Linked DNA regions of Homo sapiens: region 2 is linked to region 1. Evidence: fine-mapped expression QTL. A gene starts in region 1. The other region holds a variant in brackets. All regions are shown on one strand. Distances are from middle to middle.

Region 1 (11,907 bases):
TGCTTCAAAGGAAGATAATACATTTCTCAACCTACCATTCAATGCCAGATTTGCTAAGAGAGCAGATGCCATGTTAACCTGTAAAAATCTGATTTTAATTGCTAGTGCAATGCTTGTCCTCTAATAATTCCTTCTCTATTGTCTTTGAGTATAAATATTTATTGCACTTAAAGGTTCAATTTAATTTTTTAAAAGAAGCAATTTTTTTTTTGAGATGGAGTTTTTCTCTTGTTGCCCAGGCTGGCATGCAATGGCGTGATCTTGGCTCACCACAACCTCCGCCTCCCAGGTTCAAGTGATTCTCCTGCCTCAGCCTCCCAAGTAGCTGGGATTACAGGCATGCACCACCACACCCGGCTAATTTTGTATTTTTAGTAGAGACAGGGTTTCTCCATGTTGGTCAGGCTGGTCCTGAACTTCCGACCTCAGGTGATCTGCCTGCCTCGGCCTCCCAAAGTGCTGGGATTACAGGCATGAGCCACCAGGCCTGGTGCTAATTTTTTAAAAGAAAAAGAAAAAATGTGTCCTCACCCAAATCATCAATGCATTTTTGAAAAATAATGACAAGATAAATTAAGAAATGTAAGCATTGTCCAGTTAAAGCATATGTCAATATTGTAACATTAAAAGTCATCTACTATTAACTAAATAGATGAATCAACTTTTAAATGCATCTATCATGTAAGATGTCTAGCTTAACAATACAGAGCTGTAGGGCCAGACCATGTCCTCCTTGTAGAACCAAACAATATGATTCCCAGATCAATAGTTACAGAACACAACTATACTTGTAATACTAACCATTTGTGTGTGTGTGTGTGTCTTGGTGGGGAGAGATTAAAACAGTTCTAGATGCAAAAATGGAGAAAAATAAGTCTTAATTGTTTAACACTGTCTTTAAAAGTCAAATTACACTGATATCTCAGATAATCTGATGAACCTCACCTTTTGGTCTTACCCCCAGTTTACTTATCCATGCACTATACATATGTTTTATCTACCCATTCCCTTAACTCAAAATTTTACAGATGCATTCTCTGCCTCTAAAAACTTGCCCATCACTTTAACATTTCACTAAATCCTCCTTCTGGGAAGAACTTTTCATATTAGTCCAAAAAAATGTGGCAATATTAGCTTTTTTCCCTTTTGGACAATATCGTCTCTTCCTCTAACTAAAATAGTCCTTACCAAGTAGGAATGGGTTTGGCTACAAGTAACAGAAAACTGTGTTTAAATCTGTGGTTAAACCACAGGGATATGTACGATCTCACTGAACTAAAAGTCCACAGGTAGGTGGTTCCAGGGTTCCTTCAGGGAATGGATGGTGTAATCGAGGACCTAGACACTTCCACACTCCCATGCCATCATCCTTAGCATGACGTGTCCTATTCCCATCCCTGCTGCCTCACTGGCTGCTGTCACACCAGACGTCACATCCTCATGCTGTGCTTAAATGCAAGCATCAAGGGTGTGGCAAAAGATGTTCTCTCAGGAGGTTCTGTCCTTTATCTGGAAAAGAAGCATTTCCAGAAGTCTTCCTTATAGCCCCATAGGCCAAAACTGAATCACTATGGCCACTCCTAGTCACAGGGAAGGCTGTGAAAGTATTTCCCTTCTCAGCTTCTAGTCAAACTCAATCTCCTTATTTGTAGGAATTAAATGAAATAGTGCCCTGTTGATTCTATCTCCAACATTCCTGTTGCATCCACCTAATTATCTTCATCCCCCACCAAATCAACTCCCACCACTGTACTACAGGCTTCAGAATATCCCACCTAAAGTCTCCCAACAGTTCCTAACTGGTATCCTGATTGCCCCATTTTGTCCCCTCTACCATCCACTTTTTTTTTTTTTTTAAGTCTTTCTCTGTTGCCCAGGCTGGAGTGCAGTGGTGCAATCATAGCTCACTGCAGCCTGGAACTCCTGGGCCCAAGTGATCCTTCCACCTCACCACCTAAGCACCTGGGACTACGGGCTCACACCACAACACCTAGCTAATTTCTTCTGTTTTTTTTGTAGAGATGGGGGTTTCCCCATGTTGCCCAGGCGGGTCTCAAATACCTGGGCTCAAGCAATCCTCCCACTTCAGCCTCCCAAAGTGCTGGGATTACAGATGTGAGCTGCTGCGCCTGGCCCATTCTTTTTTGAGATGGAGCCTCACTCTGTCACCAGGCTTGGAGTGCAGTGGCGCGATCTCGGCTCACTGCAACCTCCACCTCCCGGGTTCAAGCGATTCTCCTGCCTCAGCCTCCTGAGTAGCTGGGACTACAGAAGGACGCCACCACACCCAGCTAATTTTTGTATTTTTAGTAGAGACAGAGTTTCACCATGTTGGCTAGGATGGTCTGAATCTCTTGACCTCGTGATTCACCTGCCTCGGCCTCCCAAAGTGCTGAGATTACAGGCATGAGCCATCGCGCCCAGCCCCATTCATTCTTTATACACCACTGCACAACATTTAACTGCGAATCTTACCATGTTCTTCCTCTTTAGTGGGTTGTGGTCCTGAATGTTCTGGTCACACCCACCTCTCCAGCTTCAGCTCCCTCTCCTCACTCAGATCACATGCGCCTGCTCTTTGCCTCTCAAGAAACCTCAATTTCTTCACACCTCCAAGTTGTTCACACGCTACTTCCTCCATCTGAAATGCTCACCCACTCTGCATCTCAGCTAATCTCTCCTCAGTTTTCATGTCTCTCCTTCAATGTCCTCCCCGTACACAAGGGTTATTTGTAAGATGTTGTTATTAAGTTCAAAGTTGCTGAATATAAATGAGAAAGGGCATGCAAAATAATCTTTTTTTTTTGTTAATTTCAGCAGTTAGTAGAGGTTTGCTTATTAGTAAAATGTTGACCATTTTGTTAAAATCACACTTGAGGAGCCAGTTGGCAGAACTTATTTTCTTTTCCTGAATTTTTTATTTTCACCCATATGCTCAACCAACAACGTAAAAACCCACCTCCATAGCTCCCTAGTGGTGATGACTCCTCAGATAAAGGCATTCTTCCATGATTCAATTTCATCTGTAAAGTAATGGCACTATGATGAATTATCCCATTCTCCCCTCAAAGTTGGTGGCCTGCCTTTGTTCAATCCTGCTTCTGTGATTGAAAGTTTATGCTCTAAAAGTAATCCCGAGAAATATATAAAAATGCATGACTTCCAAATACCCTGTGCTGTGCATATCATAGAAATTCAAAGAATCCCAAACTAAAAAGTAAATCATATATTCATATTTTTATCTTTCACAAATTGAAATACTCTCTAAAAATTTTTTCTACTAATTCTATATTGCAAATTATTTGAGTTAGGCAGTATGTCTTTCACTACTTTTTTTTTTTTTTTTTTTTTTTACAGACAGAGTCTCACTCTGTCACCCAGGCTGGAGTGCAGTGGCCGGATCTCAGCTCACTGCCACCTCCACCTCCCAGGTTCAAATGATTCTTGTGCCTCAGCCTCCCCAATAGCTGGGAATACAGGCGTGCACCACTACACCCACCTTGTTTTTTATTATTATTTTTAAGTAGAGACAAGGTTTTGTCATGTTGGCCAGGCTGGTCTCAAACTCCTGGTCTCATGTGATCCACCCGCCTCGGCCTCCAAAGCGCTAGGGTTACAGGCTTGAGCCATCTTGCCCGGCTGTCTTTCACTGCTTTTATACTGCAAACAGTTTTCACAACAGAGATGCTCAGTTGCTCCACACCCAGTCCTTCAGGGGAGTTATGCTTGCATATGAGCTCAAGGAACATCAAAATCGTTTTTTGAAACAAGAGCATCCTGGAAGATGAAGCAAGCTGCACCTCTGCCTTCATTAGTGAAAATGCCCTGTGCCAATATCTTTATGTCAAATGAATAAAAAGTACTCTTGGCCGGGCGCTGTGGCTCACGCCTGTAATCCCAGCACTTTGGGAGGGAGGCCGAGACGGGCGTATCACGAGGTCAGGAGATCGAGACTATCCTGGCTAACACGGGGAACCCCGTCTCTACTGAAAATACAAAAAATTAGCCGGGCGCAGTGGCGGGCGCCTGTAGTCCCAGCTACTCGGGAGGCTGAGGCAGGAGAATGGCGTGAACCCGGGAGGCGGAGCTTGCCGTGAGCCGAGATCGCGCCACTGCAGTCCAGCCTCGGCGACTGAGCGAGACTCCGTCTCAAAAAAAAAAAAAAAAAAAAAGTACTCTTATGTGACCAGGAGTGCAATCCCCGGTTCACTTCCTGCAGTGGCTCAGGGCTGGATTTACACTGCCCTCGTTGGGTGGCTGTCCATGGACTTCCAGGCCTGAAAGAAGGAAATTCACATCCTCACTGAGTCGTGTTAAGAGTCTCAGACTGGCAGGTTGTGGTGGTTAAGACCGTAGAAGCTAGAGTCAGGCCCCCTGGGTTCCAACCCTGCTCTGCCACGTACCAGACAGGCAAACCTGAGCAACCATTTTCCCGTGCTAGGGTTTCCTCGCCTGTCGAGTGAGAATAATAATAATAACAATACCTACCTCCTAGGGTTGCTGTGAGAAATAAATGACAATCCACAGAAAGCGCCTGCAACGGCGCCTGGCTGGCAAACAGCGGACTTGTTAATTACAGCCTTTCAACTAAGGGCGCCTGAAACTCGCAAACATTTTGCTCGGGTGTGGATTCGCTCCCGTTAGTTACAAACTTGGGATCCCGGGACCCGGAAAGCAAGGGGGAAAAATAAATCGCGATGGGGCCAAGGGACAGCTGCTGCGGCAACTTTTACCCAGCGGAGCCCACCTACAGCCTCAGCCTCCGGGTCTCAGGTCTCCGCCGTTTCTTCTCAAGGAGTCGGTCGGGGGAGCGGCACTGCACAGCTTTTCTCCAATCAGACACCTCAAGGCTGGCGCCTGATCCAATCTCCTCCCCTGGAGGGTGGGAACGCGAAGTTCCTACCTGCACCTGTGGCAGCGGTGACCGCCTCCTGGGTTATTTTCTTTTCTCCCCCAGCTGCCCCAGGGTTCTGGTTTCCCGAATCACTTGGCAAATAACCAGCAGGTGGGCAGATGTCTTTTTTGCGTTCCTACGGACGCGTAGGCAAGTTCGATGCGCCGGAGTGAACAGCCAGGGTCCCATCTCTCAGCCGGCTCCCGGGCGGTGCTAGCAGGGAAGAGGGACGCGCCGGCGAATGAAACACTACTAGCCCGGAAAGCCGCCCTGGACCTTCCACCCGGGCAGCGAGTCTGGCGGCCCCTCGCCGCCGCCCCCTCCGACCAGAACAGACTGCGCTGCGAGCCCCGGGCTTCCGCCGCAGCGCGCAGCAATTGGAGGTGCCAGAGGAGACCAGCAGCAGCACTTGATTTAGCTGGGCTGCGGGAATTCCGACCTGTACACTTTCCAGAAGCCTGATCTCTCCAAGTCCGCGCCCAGGGACTCGAGCCCCGGCTTCCAGGTTGACCCGAGCGCGCCCCCTTCGTGCTCTCGGCCGCGTTCACCGCGCGAGGCCTCCGGGTCCTGTTAAGCCCGAGCAGGTGAGCGACTGGGGGTGGTTCGGCGTCCGCCGAGACAGAGCCTGGCCCCGGGGGTCACCCTGGGGTGCTGCCTGGTACCTCCCAGGTACCCGCCTCCCGGAGCCCTAAGAGAGGCTGAAAACCACGGACGCTCCAGGACTCCGTTTTCTGTACTTTTGAGTAATTTGCCATCTTTTCCTTGCGCAATTCGTACAAAGCCCTTCCGTGCTCACAAAGTTGATGATTGTGAAGAAGAAAATGTAGGTTAGAGGAGAGGAAGCAGCATCAGGACACCTTACCACCACTGTTAGTAAATGACTTGGGGGTACGGGTTGCTTTTCCGATCTGCAAAGTAGGAGGGAATGGGATGTTTGCAGACGCAGTTGCTAATTGTGCCTGAGGGCGTGGGTGCCTTTTGTACCGAAAGAACTTTTGGCCGTTTTTTCTTGTATTGTTTTCAAGTCGCTGCCCGAGTGTGTCCTCAGGGCATCCTGGGGAGGAGCCGGTGTTGCGGTTTCGGGGCGCAGCCGAGGCCGCCCCGCCGCCTCCCGTAGGCGATCAGACTTCCTCTCCCTGGCGGTTCCGGGAGGAGAACCTCCTACAACAAACACCGCCGAAGTTTCCCTCTCCAGCGCGATCGCCAATCCCAGGAGCGCCCGGCGCGTGGGCTGGGAAGGAGCCGAGCGGAAACCTGGAAGTGAGCCGCGGCGCAGGCGAATCCTGCCGTTGCTGGTGGCAGCGCCCAAGAGACCCCGCACAGAAAGTGGGCTGGGAGTCTCGCTTGCTGTACCCGCACCTAAGTGCTCAGAAGCGGCCTTTCGCTCTGCAGAGGGGGGGTCTTAGAAGCTTGGGGAAGAAGCACATTGTTTCGGAGTTCCTTGTTGCGTTCTTTCTCCTTGGGAGGAGGGAATTGCACAAGGAAAAGAAGAGAAGCCTTTACTTTGTAACTGAAATTCTCCAGAGTTGAGTTGCGTCGTACAGACTCGGTGCATATTTTAATACAAAACTAAGGGAAGAGGCCATTTGATACTTGGCTTCATCTCAACCGTCAGCCGGGGGTGACTTCAAACAGACGCAAGATTGGGCTCTGGGGAGTAAAAGGAAGAATTAGGATGGCGGTTTTCAAGGGAAGTTAAGTCTAGACATGCTTCTTTGAAAGTCACAAGGCAGAAGTGGTCAAAAGTAGAATTTAAAAGAACCAAAACAAATATCATAAGCTTGTCCTTCTCTCCTACTGGGATATAAATTCTCCTAAGTATCTCATCGAAAAGGCTCCTGGGACGAAAGTCGATGGGGGCAAATCTTGGAGGGAAATTTCGTGACTGTTTGACCATGGACTAATTAATACCGTTCACCTGTAGAGAGGATGCACTTGGTTCCCAGCGCCCTCCTCCCAGGTGCTTATCCAAAGGGAGGCCGCCCTGGGTCGGATGGGTCACCTTTTGGCGTCCATCTACAGTCAAGCAGTGTGGACAGGGCGGTCATTTTCCCTCTAGAGACGGGTTGATTCAGAGGGGTGGGAACGTCCCTTGGGTCCCCCGGGCACGCTGACCACTGCACTGCACTTCCCCTGAAGGAAAGGCAAAGGTTGAAGCCAAAGAGTTCAAGGCTCAGCCTAGAGACCAGGTGATGGTGCCCTGGAAGACACTTCCGCCAGCACCCTATGGGGCGCAGTGGCGTCTAATGCTAATGTGGGCTACGTAGCTACGGGATTGGGTCGCTCCGACCCTGGCCGATCCGGTGCCAGACAGCATAAGGGAGGAAAGGGGACTGGGGGGGGCACGTGACTTCAACCAACCCAGTAACCAAGTTTTGTTTTCTTCCCCAGCACAGGCCGCTGCCTCAGCATCCACCCCGCAGCCCACGTGTGGCAAGCCGGGGAAGGGGTGGAGTGAACGGCCGGAGACCACGTGGAGAAAGGGGCCGCTTTGGCCCTTCCATCTGGGTGCCGGGAGCCCCTAGGCCCTCCGGCCATGGCCGACAGCGGCGATGCTGGCAGCTCCGGCCCCTGGTGGAAATCGCTCACCAACAGCAGAAAGAAAAGCAAGGAAGCCGCAGTGGGGGTGCCGCCTCCCGCCCAGCCCGCTCCCGGGGAGCCCACGCCACCTGCGCCGCCCAGCCCGGACTGGACCAGCAGCTCCCGGGAGAACCAGCACCCCAATCTCCTCGGGGGCGCCGGCGAGCCCCCCAAACCAGACAAGTTATACGGGGACAAATCCGGCAGCAGCCGCCGCAATTTGAAGATCTCGCGCTCCGGCCGCTTTAAGGAGAAGAGGAAAGTGCGCGCCACGCTGCTCCCGGAGGCGGGCAGGTCCCCGGAGGAGGCAGGCTTTCCTGGTGACCCCCACGAGGACAAGCAGTAGCCCCAATAGCCTGCGCGCTCCAGGACTGCCTACCCAGCACTACCCCAAACCCCCAGTTCCAAACCCGAGACTTCAGGCCCGCCCCCTTACGCGTTGTCTCATTCCACCAAATTCAGAATATTTACACAATGCCTTCATGATTTTATTTTTCTGGAAATTGAAGTGTCAATTGGGTTCTCAATATTTCATGACTCCAAGGATGCATTAAATATTTATTTGTGGTAAGAGAAGATACCTGCCGCGGAGGAGGGTGGCATAATTATTTTTTTTTCAAAAAGCTATTCTGGGGCCCTGGCCCCCTGGCTCCTGTCACAGCTCAGCTTGAACTCTGTAGCCTCTCAAATGAAGAAGGTGGCTGTTATTTAGGACTCTGTGGAAAGCAAATCACAGTGCTGTTTTTAATGCCTGAGAAATGCACTTTAGGGGTAGACTTATACCTTAAGTGAAGGAGTGGGGGAGGAAGAAGCATTCTTAAGTAGAAGCATTTTAAAATAAGGCAGGATTGCTTTTAATGTTAAACTACAAAACTGTACAGCCTATTTTAGTGTGGACTATTAAAACCCTTGCACTGTAAGGCTTAAGGTGACTTTTGTATTTTTTCCATTCCAAGACTGAATCCCATCATACTTAAAAGCAGGCAGGCAAAGTCCGAGGTGAGAGTTAATCATTTGCCACACAACATAACAGTGACTAGTGGAAAGCTGCAGGGAAGAGAATATTTCTGGAAACCAGCAACACCTGGACTGGAACTTGTTAGCCAGATATCCCTATTTATCAGCCAAATTCGAGGAAGGGAGAGAGGTACCAATTCATTATTCCTAAATTCACCTTTTACTTCAGTGCATTTTCATAGACTATAGTAAGTTACAATGCTAGTAATACATCCTTTTCAGTATCCATTGTTAAACTTACTAACGATTGTCTAAAATCAAAAAACAAGGCCAGGTACGGTGGCTGATGTCTGTAATGCCAGCACTTTGGGAGGCCTAGGAAGGTGGATCACCTGAGGTCAGGAGTTCAAGACCAGCCTGACCAAAAAGGTGAAACCCTGTCGCTACTAAAAATACAAAAATTAGCCGGGCGTGGTGGCAGGCACCTGTAGTCCCAGCTACTCGGGAGGCTGAGACAGGAGAATTGCTTGAACCTGGGAGACAGAAGTTGCAGTGAGCAGAGATCGTGCCACTGCACTCCAGCCTGGGCATCTGAAGGAGACTCCATCTCAAAAAAAAAAAAGACTGAACTCTGCGCAGCTAAAGAGGTGGGGGTATTTTCCCCACCCCTTTGCTTTAAAAGCTTATTTCCTTAAAGTATGCATTTATCTAGTTTCAGACCCTTTAGATCTAACAACCTGAAGATTCTTAACAAAAAGCTGTTCGCTTTTATTATGAACTTCAAGAAAAAGAGTAAACGAATACCATTTGCTTTGAGAAAATTACAAGAGAGTTATTGTAGTCGTTAAGAGGCACTGGGATCTTTTCCCACCACAATTCAGTTCATTTATAAACACCCAGAAATGCATGGCAGGAAAATTATATTGATCAAAGTGTATATCTTTGTAGATAATGACAAGCAGGAACTTAATTATAGCTTCTCGATTTGTATATGTAGACAAGCTATTTTTTTGTTTCTCCCAAATTAGTAATTTATAAAGTAGCAAAACAGTTCGATTGTTAAAAGAAATTTAACAAAGAAATTTGATGAAGATGGCTGAAATGAATTTAAATTAATGAATCAAGCTTTGGTGCCAGCAGAATAATACAGCTAATTTTGATACATGAGTTTCCACATACCAAAGGCCTTACACTAAAGGAAAGTGTATATCTAGAGGTTATGAACACCTTAAATTAAAAGAAAGTATGTGAGAGGACTTTTTTAAGCATGAAAAGACATTTTCATTGTATACGTAAAACTGGAAAGTGTGTGACCAAAATCTCATCCAGGTGGGCTTCCTGGATGAGGCAGACTACATTCAGTTTAAATGGGCCTACCATCTCTAGATTCAGAAAAAGAAGAGGGAATTGAGACTTGGCATGAAAAAAGAATTCATGATAAGGGACAGGATTGGGGGTTGGCAGAGCAACGGGAGTGAATATAGCAAATGTTGTCAAATAAGGCTTTGGAAAACCTTCAAAAAGTATTTCAATTTCACTCCGTAGAAAGTAATCAAAATTAGAGTAGGTAACTACCCAAAATGTTCTCTCCCTCCTTCAGGAAGACCGATAGATCAGGACTGTACCTATTTATAAAATTAAGTCTGCAATTACATAAGTTTAAAATCCTATACTAACCCTTTCATCCAGTTTTATTGTTTTAAAGAACTTTTTTCTTTAAAATTACTGTAGATGAACAAAACATTGGCAAGTTTCAAGGTTCTGTGTCTAATTTTGGATCCCATCCAAATCTACAATTGCTGCAGATAATCAATAGCAGACATATAGTAGAGCAATGGAACTTATTACCATATTAACATGACATCTTTACCCCACTGTTCTGAAAGAATTTAAAACCATACTAATGCAGTTATGACAGTGAATGCAATTCACAATCTGCCATTGAGGTTTGTAATTACATCGTTTTAAAGCAGTCCTAAATTATGCAGTGGGAGGAATACACTGATTTAATCCCAACTCAGTGAAATCAGAAACCAAGCAAAATTGGTGGGACAGAAAGAGCATAAGGAAGATGAGAGAATTTGACGACGTGTCTTGCTGGGATTTATGTGCTTTACAGATGTTTAATTACATTCCAATAGTATATACAGATTTAATTTTTTTTAACCTTGAGATAATTTATAGTAAAAAAAAATGCTGAATTAAATTTGCAGTCAGAAACTTTTCTTTAAATTATCTTACAAATGAAATTTCACTCACAAATTTGGAAGCCATATCAGAAATTTTAACACTATACTTCCAAAGATATGGGAAAAAAAGGAACAAAACTCTAGCAGTGTATTTGCTACACACTTTTGTAACCACGATAATTATATACAAAGGGTAGTTTTTGCCCCAGTGACTCTCCTTGCAAAATCGGTGGCTGGGCAGTGACTCATATTACAGGTCACCTGAACGTCCCTTTGTGTCTGTACTTCTATTGTTCAGCACATTCTGACTTGCATTTCAAAAGCACAAACCCGACTTTACATATGCAATTAGGATGTTCTCCTTTAGTATAACACCTGGAAATATTTTTTCTGCTTCGAAACATTATGTGAACTCAGCAATTCTAGTCCTGCCAAGTCCTTAGAAGGGAAATAGAAACCTAATGAGCATTGGCTAAAAGCTTTGTCAAAAATAGTGCTTTTCCTGAGATGCGCAGAAGAATATTTGGGTGCCTTGAAAGAAGCAAATACTAAAAATGAGCAGACAGAATTTCAAATGAAAGGTAAACTTGAAAGAAATAAGTGAAAGGACACATATTCAGTGACCCCAAGAGACGTTTTATGAAAAAAGAGAGAAAGAATATTCTTTTTCCCCAGCTGAGAAGTGTCAATCGACTAGAAACAAGCACACAAAAAGCTAGCATGATATAGTAAGGAAAATGGATTTTTCCAAGTCTATTTTATTTTTAGAGGGTTTCATTATAACATAAATGTGGAAGATTGTTTGTTGAGATAGATTCATGTTTACCTCCATGACAAGTAAAAAGTGGGACCAGAGATATTTTATACATTTGGATGTCAACATGTAAATACCATAGACTAAGGCTAGGTGTGATGGCTCACACCTGTAATCTTAGCACTTTGGGAGACTAAGGTGGGAGAATTGCTTAAGCCCCAGAGGTCGAGGCTGCAGTGAGCCGAGATTGTGCCACTGCATTCCAGCCTGGGCGACAGAGCAAGACCCTGTCTCAAAAATAAAAAACAAAACAAAACAAGAAACAAATATCGTAGACTAGAAACAAGTGTGGAACCCGCAGCAAAGTTTGTCACTGATGGGCTGGCTGTCCCATTGCAGTATGTTTCTTCTCACCTGTTCTCTGTACTCCCTGACCCCATTCTTACCCTGCCTCCAAGGCACTGCACATGCATTCCCATGAGGCTCAGGGATACAGAAAAGGGGCTGCCATGAGACTTCCCGGACTCCTGCAG
Region 2 (11,907 bases), 84 kb before region 1:
CCAGGTGGAGGAGGAGCCATTGCTTAGATGAACCTCTAAGGTCCCTTCTGGGCTTATGATGCTAGGTTATTAGAGCCAGTGTAGTGAGAGGGGTATTTGTCTTTCTTCTACCATTCCTTTCCTGGGCACTTTGTATGTCCACAGACACCCAAAAGGGCTCCATTTTCCCAGGTCTTCCTGCCCATTGACCCACCCTTTCCTCCTTGTCTATATCTGACAACCTCTCATTGCCTTCTCGTTACTTGATTCCTTCTTGGATCCAGGATCCTAATTGTAGAGAGAAAGAAGAACAGTGAGAGGGCTTAGAAAATAGAATCCCAACCTTTATTCATCAAAAAAAGAAGAAAAAAAAGAAGTGGTGAGCTTATGTCACCATTTATTTATAGCCCCACCTACTTCCAGAAGTATCTTAAGTGGTACCTGCTTTCACAGTGGGCTCAGGGAGAACTAAAGTCTCCTATTTAAAAACCAGTTCAGGGAACACCAGACCTGCTAGTCGTTGACAGACTATAATGGGGAAGAGAGTAATTCAAGCATTCAACCACTGCATATTTTTTAATGTAAGTATTATGGGGATGAGAGACTGTTTAAACAATATTTAAAAGCATAGATTTAGTGTATACCCAAAAGAATTGAAAACAAGCGTTCAAACAAAACTTGTATGAGGATATTCTTAGTAGCATGGTTCACAATTAGCCAAAAGGTGAAAACAGTCTAAATGTCCATCAACTGATAAATGGAAATGAAGTGTGGTATATCCATACAATGGATTGTTATTCAGCAACAAAAAGGAATGAAGTACTGATACATGCCACAGCATAAATGCACCTTGAAACATGCTAAGTGAAATATCTAAAGAAAAAAGAAGCAGCCAGATATCAAAACCCATATATTGTACGATTCCCTTTATACAAAATATCCAGAATAGGCAAATTCATAGAGACAGAAAGCAGATTGGTGTTTGCCAGAGGTTGGGAGGAGAAGAGAATGAGCAGTGGTACTGATGGGTACAGGGTTTCATTTTGGGGTGATGAAATATTCTGGAACTAGGTAGTGGTGATTGTTGCAGAACATTGTAAATGCATTAAATGCCATTGGATTTTACATTTTTAAATGGTTAAAATGGTAAATTTTATGTTAAGTGTAGTAGAAGGAAAGACACTTGTTCTTCAGGGCTTTGAGGAAAGATAGGCTCAGTTAGTTGTGCCTATATTCTACCACTTACCAGCTATGTGGCCATGGGCAAGTCACTTAAACTCTCAGCTTCCATTTCCTTATCTGTAAAATAAGGGTAATTATAACAGTACCTACCTCGTAGGGTTTTAAATCTTAAATGAGTCAAAATATGCAAAGTGGGCCGGGTGCCATGGCTCACACTTGTAATCCTAGCACTTTGGGAGAACAAGGTGGGTGGATCACCTGAGGTCAGGAGTTTGAAACCAGCCTGGCCAACATGGTGAAACCCCATCTCTACTAAAAATACAAAAATTTGCCAGGCACAGTGGCACGTGCCTATAGTCCCAGGTACTTGGGAGTCTGACGCAAGAGAATCACTTGAACCCGGGAGGCAGAGGTTGCAGTGAGCCGAGATCGCGCCATTGCACTCCAGCCTGGATGACAGAGCGAGAGTCCGTCTCAAAAAAAAAACCACCAATAAAAATTAAAAAAAAAAAATACACATATATATGCAAAGCGCTGAGTATAACACTTGGCACATAGTAAGCATGATATAAATATTAATATTTGTGTTATTAATTTAGCCCAGTATTCTCAACTGGAGACAGCGTTGCTTCCCAGGGAATATTTGGCCATGTCTGGAGACATTTTTTATTACATACTTAGGGGGAGGGGCTCTACTGGCATCTAGTGAATACAGGCAAAGAATGCCACTGAACATCCTGCAACGTACAGGACAGCCTCCCACAACAAAAGATTATCTGGCCCAAAAGACCATTCGTTCCAGTGAGAATCCCTGGTTCAAACAGAGCATGTAGGGAAATGTGCTTCATCTCATGAATGTATATATTAAAATAGGTCAGGTAGAAATTTTCATTAGAAGAAGACGGTCAGCAAATGTATTAAATGTCCCTTGTGTATAGAGAACACTATATTAGACATTACGGAGCATATAAAATAAGGCAAGGAGCTGTCCTTGAGGAGCTGAGATAAAAAAGAGCTCTGTGTGATGGGGTTATTTCAGAGAGAAGTTTTCGCCAAGAGATTACTGTAATCAGTTTTCCCTTAATAAGAGGGTGATCTGAGGTCACCCACACTGCTCCCAGTAATGCTCGCTCAAAGGCTAACACTTCTAGTCCCCTGTAAAGAAGCATCCTAAGGGAATAGTGTTGGTTCCTTCACTTGTCTGAATGTGTCTTGTGTTTGGGTAAATTCTATTGAATCAATAGCTGAAAAAGAAATCACTGTCACAAATGGAAATAAAAATTACTTGTTATACATACAAGCACAGACATGAAAAAATATTAAATCTCATTGTATTCAACCATCCATAGACCAAAAGGAGGAGATTCTTTTGGCCACTTTCCATGTAAATAGTTATTTGATCAGATTCTAAAAATGGTATATTCATGTCATTAGTCCAGTCCACATCACAGAATTTGCCCTTACACAAATGGCTCACCATCAAAAGGTCTCTCTCGCTTTGCTAGCAGTGAAGGTTGGGAAAGGACCCTTTTTGCTTCTCTCCATCTTTTTACCTGTAGACTAAGGATGGGAAGCCCTGCAAAGGTATGCCAAGCCTTCACTTAACGCCTGCCATAACAGTTGTCCTTCAGAATGGGACAGTGGGAAGAAGGGCCAAGGGGCCTGGTGAAGCCCATTAAGAGAGTAGACCCCTGGAGGGAACCTTGTCTTTGGAAGCTGAGGCAGTGGATGGGTGGTCACAGGAGGGACTGGAGACCCCGCACCATGCAGTCCTCTTTGCACACCTTCTTCCACAACCCTGGCTTCCTATATGTACATGTGCTTTCTAGCAACTTATATTTATTCAGTGTCTACTGTGGCAAGGACTCTTATTAGACACTTTTGTAGGGGGAAACAAAAGCAAATTAAGCATAGAGCATGTCACAGTGAGTTCTCAGTGTGGCAGGGATAAGAGCTGTTATAGTCACTATAATACAAGACAGAAAGTGACAAGTGCAATCAGAAAAATGTGGATAAAACACTATGGGATTTCAGAGGACACAGTTGGCCTTCAGTGGGGAGTCTGGGGAAGTCCTTTTGGAAAGGGTAGCATTAGAATCAGAATGTAAATGTTGGTGAAAATGTAGATATGTTGAAAGGATGCTAGAATATTCTAAAGAACAGAGCAAGCTACCAAGGTTAGCAGTTAAGTATGTCACAGAAGAGATGTTGTAGGATTTGTGGAGGGGAGTGTAGGGAAATAGGATGAGCTGGGTACATTAGGATCAGCTCATGAAAAACCAGCAATGCCAGGACACAGTTAAGCTATGGAGAAGCATGGGTGGATTAGGAAGATTGTTGTAGAGCGATGTGTAAGGTGGACTGGAGAGATAACAAGGGTCTGAGTTATGTGGGGAAAGAAAGGTAGGGAGAGGCCAGACTCAACCAGTATCTGAGATAAAGCATTTGTCAGGACTGATGGCAGGATGAGGCAGCACATGGGTGTACCGAGGCAGCAGGACACAGTGTTGAGGAGCATGGGCGCTGGACACAGATGCTTTGTGTTCTAGCCCTGGTTCTGCCACTTAAACTAGGCTGCATGTCCTTGGGCAAATTGCTTTACCTCTCAGTGCCTTGCTCTCTTCATCCAAAAGAATCGGGAATAAAAATCTTGCTCCTCACACCCATATGCTGCAGATTAAATGAGTTAAGTGCCTTTGACACATTCTAACGTCCTCTGACACAGCGTAAATTATTGTGCTCAATAGCTTAACGTAAAAATTGGGTGTTATTATTGAAGGTCATGAGAGGATGAAATGGGAGGATGAACTTTTGAACCAAGTTAAAATCATGGTGTTTACCAGGAATAAAGAATTACACATGGGAAGGAGTGATCTTTGGTTACTCTTCACAAGGCTGCTTGGAGGGACTGCAGCATGGGGCCCTTGTTTGAGTAGAGGACAGGACTGCCCATCTACATAAAGGCCCAGTTATCTAGATCTTGTTTTCTAGTTCCTAAAGCATTAATTTTACTGTCTGGCATTAGCTGCATTAATCTTCACCAATGAGTCAGGAGTACTCCCAAGACATCAGGATTTCCCTGCTTCTTTTCATGGGGAGACCTAGGATCAAAGAATTAGGGTCATGGGAGACCATCAAACAGATGATGCTTTTAAGAGGAAGGAGGCCATTTTCATAGGCTTGGGCACTAACAGAATGAACACTGAAGATGTTTTATTTAAAAGAAAAGCAATTATGATGTTTTGATTTTAGGTAAGGAATATTGTCTTGTCTGTGTGGGTTTGAGCAGAGTTTGTTCGTGCAGGAAGGACAGGAGAGACCGGGGAGTGTCCTGAGGCAAGACATCCTGCCTCTTATTCTGCAACTTTGCAGAACTCAGAGTGGAAAAGCTTTGCTCTCCTCTGATATCCCATTTGGTGCTCAGACTGTTCCAATGTAATGCATGCATAAGAATAAAAATTAAGCTTTCAAGTGCTAAGGCAGATTTTTAATAAAGAGACATAGGCTTTACCCCTATAAGATTAAACAGTCATCAGGGTTTAAAGGTTTAATCTGTTGGAGCTCAGCCCAGGATGGGGTTCAGAGCCCCAGATTAATTGGATGCAGCCTCAGACTTTGAACGTCAGAGCTGGCTGGGGGGTGTGTGCGCTGGTGTGTTTGAGTGTGAAATGTGCTAATAAGGAGGAGAGACCTCTCCTTTGCAATGTGCTGCGGCAGGAGAAAGCAGGCTGCCGGCCCCTGCCTCCCTGAATCCTCAGTGGCTGACTGGATACCGCTTCTGGGGGTTGCTGTGCACATGAATGTTTGCTATTGTTCCAGGCGCACGTCGGCCTTAAGAAATAGCACAAAACAGGCCCATCCTTATTCAGAAGCCGGGCCCCCTCCATCACTCAAACTGGGCCTTTCAGGTCACATGCCGGAGGCTGCTGCAGACAGGACCCAGCTGCCTCAAATCTGCCGCCTAACATAAGCTGCGGTTCGAAAATCCTGACAGCACAGGGCTTCCTGGGCTCTGCAGAGCAAACTGGAAAGAGCTGGGATCCAGGCACTATGTTCTCTGAAGAACTGTGGCTGGAAAATGAGAAAAAGTGTGCTGTGGTTCGGAAGTCTAAGCAGGGCAGGAAACGCCAAGAACTGCTGGCCGTAGCCTTCGGGGTGAAGGTGGGTGTCAAAGGCGGCTTTCTTTGGCCCCCTCTCAAACTCTTTGCCTGTTCACAGATCTCCTCCCTGGTTCGAAGGGCTGCCCTCACACACAACGACAACCACTTCAATTATGAGAAGACACACAACTTTAAGGTAAGCAAGCCTCTGCATTCCTTCTTCTGTTACAAAAGGGCAGGTGGAAAGGTACAGTGTATAGTTTCCGTCTGGTTTCTGACTGTAAAGTCAAGAGACAATGAATTCCTTTGCTTTCCACATTTAGCTATAAGCTTAACACCTGCGCTTTCTGTCAGTTCAAACTGGAGACCTCAGAAAGCAGTCTGCTCAGTGCTTATGCCTGGAAACACCTTATCTGGATGTTGACTTAGTTTTGGAGAATTGGGCCCATTGCCACTTCACGTTCCCATGTCCAGTGAAATAAACACAGAGCATGCCCAGTCTCTCTCAGTCAGAGATGTTCTGCTGAGAGCTGAGCAGTACTTTTCCACTCAGTAAAGAATATTGCTGTCTCCGAGCAAGGGAAAACAGTTGCCTGTTTCTCGTTTTGTGTTTTGTCTTTTGTTTTCAGTGATGCTAACTCCTTTCCTTTATGCGTAGACACCTGTGAAATCAAATAATGACAGGAGATGCCATCCAGAAGCTTTTATTTGTGCTCCGGGTACGGCTAGCAGGGGGGGCACCCTTGGTCACAGCCTTTATCCTGCTCACCAGACCAAACAAAAAGATCTGGAAACCTGGTGAGGGGTTAAGTGGAATTTCCCAAGTGAATTTATAAACTGGAAAGACCGCTAT[G/C]TTCGTTTCAGACTGGTACTTGTAGAAGGGGCCTGCCATCAGAAAATTATGGCCTGTTTCCTTTGCCCAAGTGTTTTCCAAGAAGGGCTGGAAAGGGATGCTGCTGCCAAATTGTCTAGCTTGAATTGCAGTTGAGAGGAGGAGAGACAGGTTAGAGTTAGAGGCTTCACCCCAAAAAGTGAGCTGGCAGTTTGAAAGTTGGGGAGAGTGGAGATGGAGGATCCAGGAAGAAAACAATAGGCAGGAGAAGCAAAATGTGAATTGCTTTCTTTTAAAAAAATTCTTGTTTCCTTTAGGGTCAGTAACCCAAGTGACTCTTGGAATTAGATAACCCTTTTGTCAGAGGTGACGAGGGAAACTGATTTTATTCTGTTGCTTTCCGATCCTTTCTGAGGACAAATATTCATCTATTAAATATACATTGGTGTTAGTTTGGTCTGTTTCCCTGCATCTGTTTTTAGAAAGCCAGCAGCTCAGGCATTTGCATGCTATAATTGAACTGAGGAATGGAATTATACAGCCCTACATACTTAGCATTAGGGTGAAGAATTGCATTGCATAGGTCCTCTTCTATGCCAAAGCTTTTCATATTTCTCCCGTCACTGAATATTGACAGGTCTAATTTGGAGCATTAAATGCCTCCCGTTTTTTTTTTTTTTTTTACTCTGTTTTCCATTTTTATCCTCATTAATTTTTTTTGGCCTTAAGAAAGTGTTTTTTTGATTTTTAGCAGAAATCCTTGATTTTTTTGCATCCTGTGGATACACTACTAGTGATGAGAGGATGGATCTTCATGGACTTGTAAATTCTTTTTCTTCCTCTTGAAAATTCCAATTCATTTGGCGTTAAGAAATTGGAATTATGCCATACTATAATATGTTTGCATGGAGTAGCTTGTCCATGTATATTCTGTGTCTGAGCTTGTGTTAAAAACACACAAATATACATAGTTGATATTTTCAAAACTAATTTCAGTCCTTTTAATGTTAGATCCCTGAATGGAAAATTAATCTTAAGACATTTTAAAACTAAAAGATAATTAAATCTTATTTTTTAAGTAGTACTGTTGCTAACACAATATATTACTTATCACTGGAAAACACCAGCAGCTCTTCTAATATTTGTTTAAAAACTCAAAAGCTATTCACCGTTAACAGCTCTTGAAAGAAGAAAAGGCACAAAATAGAGAAGCTGTTCAAGAGGAGTACACAAGCCAGACAGGAGCGTTTCTCTTCCATGTTTTAAACAGACATCTTTGAAACTTAGCAGACCTCAAGTAGCTGTGACAGTTGATTGTGGCATTCGATGGTACTGTTGGTGCCACTGTCCTTAAGAATGAGTGGCAGGGGCCAGATGAGGCATCCCCTTTGTCCTTCCTTGCCCTTTCCACCCTCAATCTCCCCACTCCTCACCCGCAACTAACTCTAGGTGGAAACTTTACATGGTTTTTGGAAGAACATTCAAAAAGCAGGCTCAGGCTATAAATACAGTGGCAGGTTTTTAGGGACAAGCCACTGAACTGAACTAAAGGAAGAAAATTCTTATCCTAGGTCCCTGCCATCTGCTTGGAATTTGTGTTTCAGACCTTAATTTTACATTAGCTTTTTATTTACATTAACTTCTAATGGGCTTTATTCAGAAGCCTTCTTGATTTGTAATTCGGGTTAATATTTGAGGCTACTATGTGCATAGCATATAGTAAGCAGTCAATAAAAAGAACAAATAATCACATTTTCATGCTCATCAGATAATAGGCTTTGCTAGGTGCTGTCTGCACTTTTTTCTTTTTTTTTTTTTTTTTTTTTTTTTTTTTTTTTTTTTTTTTTGAGACGGAGTCTCGCTGTGTCTCCCAGGTTGGAGTGCAGTGGCGCGATCTCGGCTCACTGCAAGCTCCGCCTCCCGGGTTCATGCCATTCTCCTGCCTCAGCCTCCCAAGTAGCTGGGACTACAGGCGCCCGCCAACACACCCGGCTAATTTTTTGTATTTTTAGTAGAAACGGGGTTTCACCGTGTTAGCCAAGATGGTCTCGATCTCCTGACCTCGTGATCCGCCCGTCTCGGCCTCCCAAAGTGCTAGGATTACAGGCGTGAGCCACCGCGCCCGGCCTGCACTTTTTTCTAGAGGCCTCCTACCTGACATTCAAATTTGCCAGTAGAGTTTCTCTTCTTACCCCATAACAAGATTGTTTGCCCCAGTCAGAACTATTACCCCAGGTAAAAAGCCCTTTCCTTTGCTCTGCCCAGGAACTTTGTCAAGAGGAATGAATAGAAACCCCCAACATTCCCTAAGTTGGGACCTTGCGCTCTATTCTCTCAGAAAGCTCACAGTCACTGCCTTTGCTTCTCAAACAAAGCTTGTCTAAGCAAAGTAAAATTCGGCTCTGAGAACAAAAGCTTTGGGAACCAAAGGACAGTTGGCACCTCATCGCATGCAATAATTGTATACTTTTCAACACTGTGTGCTGATGCAATCTTTGCTTATTTAAAGCCTGGATTTCCTAGGGTTACTTGTACCTACTAGGCACTGAGACGTATTTGTTGGAGGAATGGTGAAATTAACAGACTCCTCTCTAAAATGAAAACTGTTTGTCAAGAGAAAAACCACTCGGTTATTTAGCTCATTTTATAACTGCATCTCTGTTTATCTAGTTGATTTAAGGAGGCACTCTGCTGTAACTGGAACAGCTCTCTTTTGAATGGTCCACCCTAATAATACCTTATGGCTGAGCTCTGAAAATCTTCAGGCCAGCCAACCCCAGAGGCCCGGCAGTCGGCTTGCTCGGCTTCCTGCCCACACTTAGCACAGTGCTGAGGTAGCTTTAGCCCGCATAGTACTCCTGGCCACACCATGTTCTTCCAAAGAGCTCAGCTCTCTCTGCCTCAGTTCCCTCATCTATAAAATGGGAGTGTTGGGAGGTTTAAAGAATACATGCGAGTCACTTATCGTGGTCTCTGGCACCCAGTAAGTATTCATTTGATGTTAGCATCTATTATTATCTTTTTGTGCCTCTCACTTGTATTTTTGTATCTAGCTTTTTCAGTCTTTTATTTTCTACCCTCTCTTCTTCATGGCTTTTTTTCTTTTGTCTCTTTTCTACCATCTCTTTCTTCTTCTCTCATTAATTATATGTAAGAGAAAATGAAATAAAGCCTGATGGTTATTTCCTTGAATGTATTCCATCCTGTAGCCAATACTGGTTTATACCCCTCGTTTGTTTAAAAAGTAAATGGATGACTTAGATGATTTAGATTTAGATTTCACACATTTTTCTCCTAGCTTTTAAAAAGTACTTTCTATTAAAGCTGTCATAACAAATGACCACAAACTTGGTGGCTTAAAACAACACAGATTTATTTGCTGGTGGTTTTGAAGGCTGGGAAGTCTGAAATCAAGGTATGGGCAGGGTTGGGTCCTTCTGGAGGCTCTGAAAGAGAAACTGCCCTGCAGCTCTCTCCTAGCTTCTTGTGGTTGCGGCAGTCCTTGGCGTTCTTTGTCTTGTAGACACACCACTCCAATCTCTGCCTCCATCTTCATATAGCCTTCTCTGTATGTCTCTGTATATCTGTCATCTTCTTATAAGGTTGCCAGCCATGGGATTTAGGGCCCATACTAATCCAGTATGATGTCGTCTTAATTATATCTTCAAAGACCCTATTTCCAAATAAGGTCATATGCACAGTGACCCAGGGTTAGGAGTGAAGCACACCTTTCGGGGGATATACGATGCAACCCGTTATAGGAACTGTAATTGACATTTTCAGGAACCCTCAATAGGAAGGATCTCTAGCCTCACCCTAAAGGATGCATTGTCAGTAATGTTAAAGTTTACAGTTTCATTAAAGATTTTTATGTCCATGAAAAAAGGTCTTTAGATGTAATCTAATTGCTCCTAAGTGTCAACCCCTTGGTCCAGGCATAACTGCTGATTTCCATGGCTATTGATTTTAACATCTGTAAAGAAAAGTTTTCATGGATTTTTCTTATCAGTGCTTCATTGCTCTGATAGAAAGTGGTGAAACTTAGTTATTCTTTGTCTCTTATCTTTACCAAGCATTTCTTCATTAAAAGAGGCACCAAAAAAACTTTAAAATAGCTGGTGAGCTTCCATTTTTAGTAGCAAGTTGAAAGTGTCTATTTGCTGTAGCTGGTTCATATTCAGAGTATGTGTTATACTTTATAATCAAATTTATGATGTAGCTATTAGTTCACACTAATATGTGTGATTGATTATGCAGGACTGGGCAGGTAATGTGTGAGACCTAGTATAAAATGAAAATATGAGGTTCTTGTTAAAAAAAAAAATTGAGACTTTCAAAACTATGACAGCAGCACATTAAACCATGCTAAGGACAGGGCTCTGTGCAACAGCGCAGGTCACATGCGCCCTGAAGCTGACCCTGTGGTGATGTATAAAAAAACAGGAGTAAAAGACAAGCTTCTGTGAGCATTCAAAGAGGAGGGGGCTCCCTAGTGCTGGAGATCCTGTGTAAGAGACAGTGTGGTTGTTCTCTCAGCCTTAACCAAGAATCCTCGTGGGTAGGTGGAAAGTTGGCTGAAGCCCAAGTAGATAAATAGATCAAGGATGGTTATACAGGGGAAAGAAAGAGCACCCGGGCTATGCAAACAACAGGAGTGAGAACTTGGAGTCAGAAATGTGCCAGGAGCGAATAAGGTGCAGGGGAGAGACCTCGGGGACAGAAAGGAGTCCATCACATTTAAATCATCAGTTGGGGTGGGCCAGATGGTGGAAAGATGATGATTCCTGGGCCCTGGAGCCATCAGAGTCTCCTGAGCAGGCCCTTCCCCCACTCAGCCTGCTGCTTCTGTTCCCAGCCTCTCCAGTCTGCATGGGGATCTGCATCACTCTTTCCTGCCAAATTCTCTCCCACCCCCATGCACTTCCAGGATACCCTTCCTTCTTCCCGATATGGAATATGGATGGAGAGCAGAGGCCCAGAAAGTTCTAACCCCCCTCACTGTGTGTTCCCCACTCCCTTTCCACCCCCCTTCCACCTCCTGCCCAGCCTGTACCAGCTTCCCTTTTCTCCCTAGCGCTGATCACCAGCTGACATCGTACATATTTATGTGTGTGTTTGCCTGCCTTCCCCTTACCAGAGGGAAACTCCCGATGGGAGGGGGTGGGGAGAGAGGGTTCGTGGAGTGGGGATTTTTGTCTGTTTTATTGACTGCAGAAACCCCAGTGTCTAGAACAAGTCCTGGCCCACAAGCTGTTCATTCACGTTGGCAGAAAGCAGGGGACCGTATCTCCCTACAGTTGAGCTTTCGGAGCCCTCTCCTCACTCCCTGCCCTGCAGTTTGCCCTCTTGTGCGGCTTGTGTGTTGTATGCACCTGTGTTCATTGTACTAGAGTCCTTCCACGGAGTGGGCCCTTGCCAGGGTCATCAGATGGCGCAGGAGAGATGGAGGCCCTATCAGGATGTGTCGGGCCAGCTCTCAATCCCCATTTGCCAGGGATGGTGACTGTGCAGTGCTACCCCGTGTCTGATCCATGGGAGCGGGCGGGTAAGGGGGAGGAGGGATCTGTCCCAGTTCACTACAGCTGTCCTGTGTGGCGCCTTTCAAAAGCATCCCATCAGGACGTAGGGGAAATGGTTGCCCTACTTACTCTTATATGTCCCCCACTCTGCTGACAGACTGAGGATGCACCAGGAGCACCCCGTTCCCATGGCACACCCCATCGCGTGTGCTCTTGTAGCATGCTCCTTCTCAACATGCAACCCCCACCCCGTGCTATCCTGGAGGCCAGGACTAGAAGTTCAAGAAGCTAAGAA

Direction of the effects. Alleles are on the strand shown, and positions count from the first base shown. SD is a standard deviation of normalised expression in the study named.
For the expression in thyroid of the gene that starts at base 4,936 in region 1, allele C in region 2 goes with a lower level than allele G (moderate effect, 0.56 SD a copy in GTEx).

What was found. PIP is the estimated chance that this variant, and not a neighbour inherited with it, causes the effect.
Region 2: its variant is fine-mapped to the expression of PRR15 in thyroid (GTEx, PIP 0.98).

What each region holds. Positions count from the first base shown.
Region 1 is chr7:29,558,900-29,570,806 of GRCh38, forward strand. PRR15 (proline rich 15) reads left to right here and starts at 4,936. Exons shown (of 2, transcript NM_175887.3): 1 at 4,936-5,478; 2 at 7,286-8,394. The coding sequence starts at 7,431. The coding sequence ends at 7,820. PRR15-DT (PRR15 divergent transcript) reads right to left here and starts at 4,792. Exons shown (of 2, transcript NR_183550.1): 1 at 4,489-4,792. RefSeq lists an enhancer at 6,559-7,422.
Region 2 is chr7:29,474,900-29,486,806 of GRCh38, forward strand. It overlaps CHN2 (chimerin 2), which reads left to right. Exons shown (of 13, transcript NM_004067.4): 7 at 5,380-5,457. Among named protein-coding and RNA genes, the nearest start is that of PRR15-DT, 83 kb to the right of the region's middle. The variant G/C (reference allele first, on the strand shown) is at 6,115.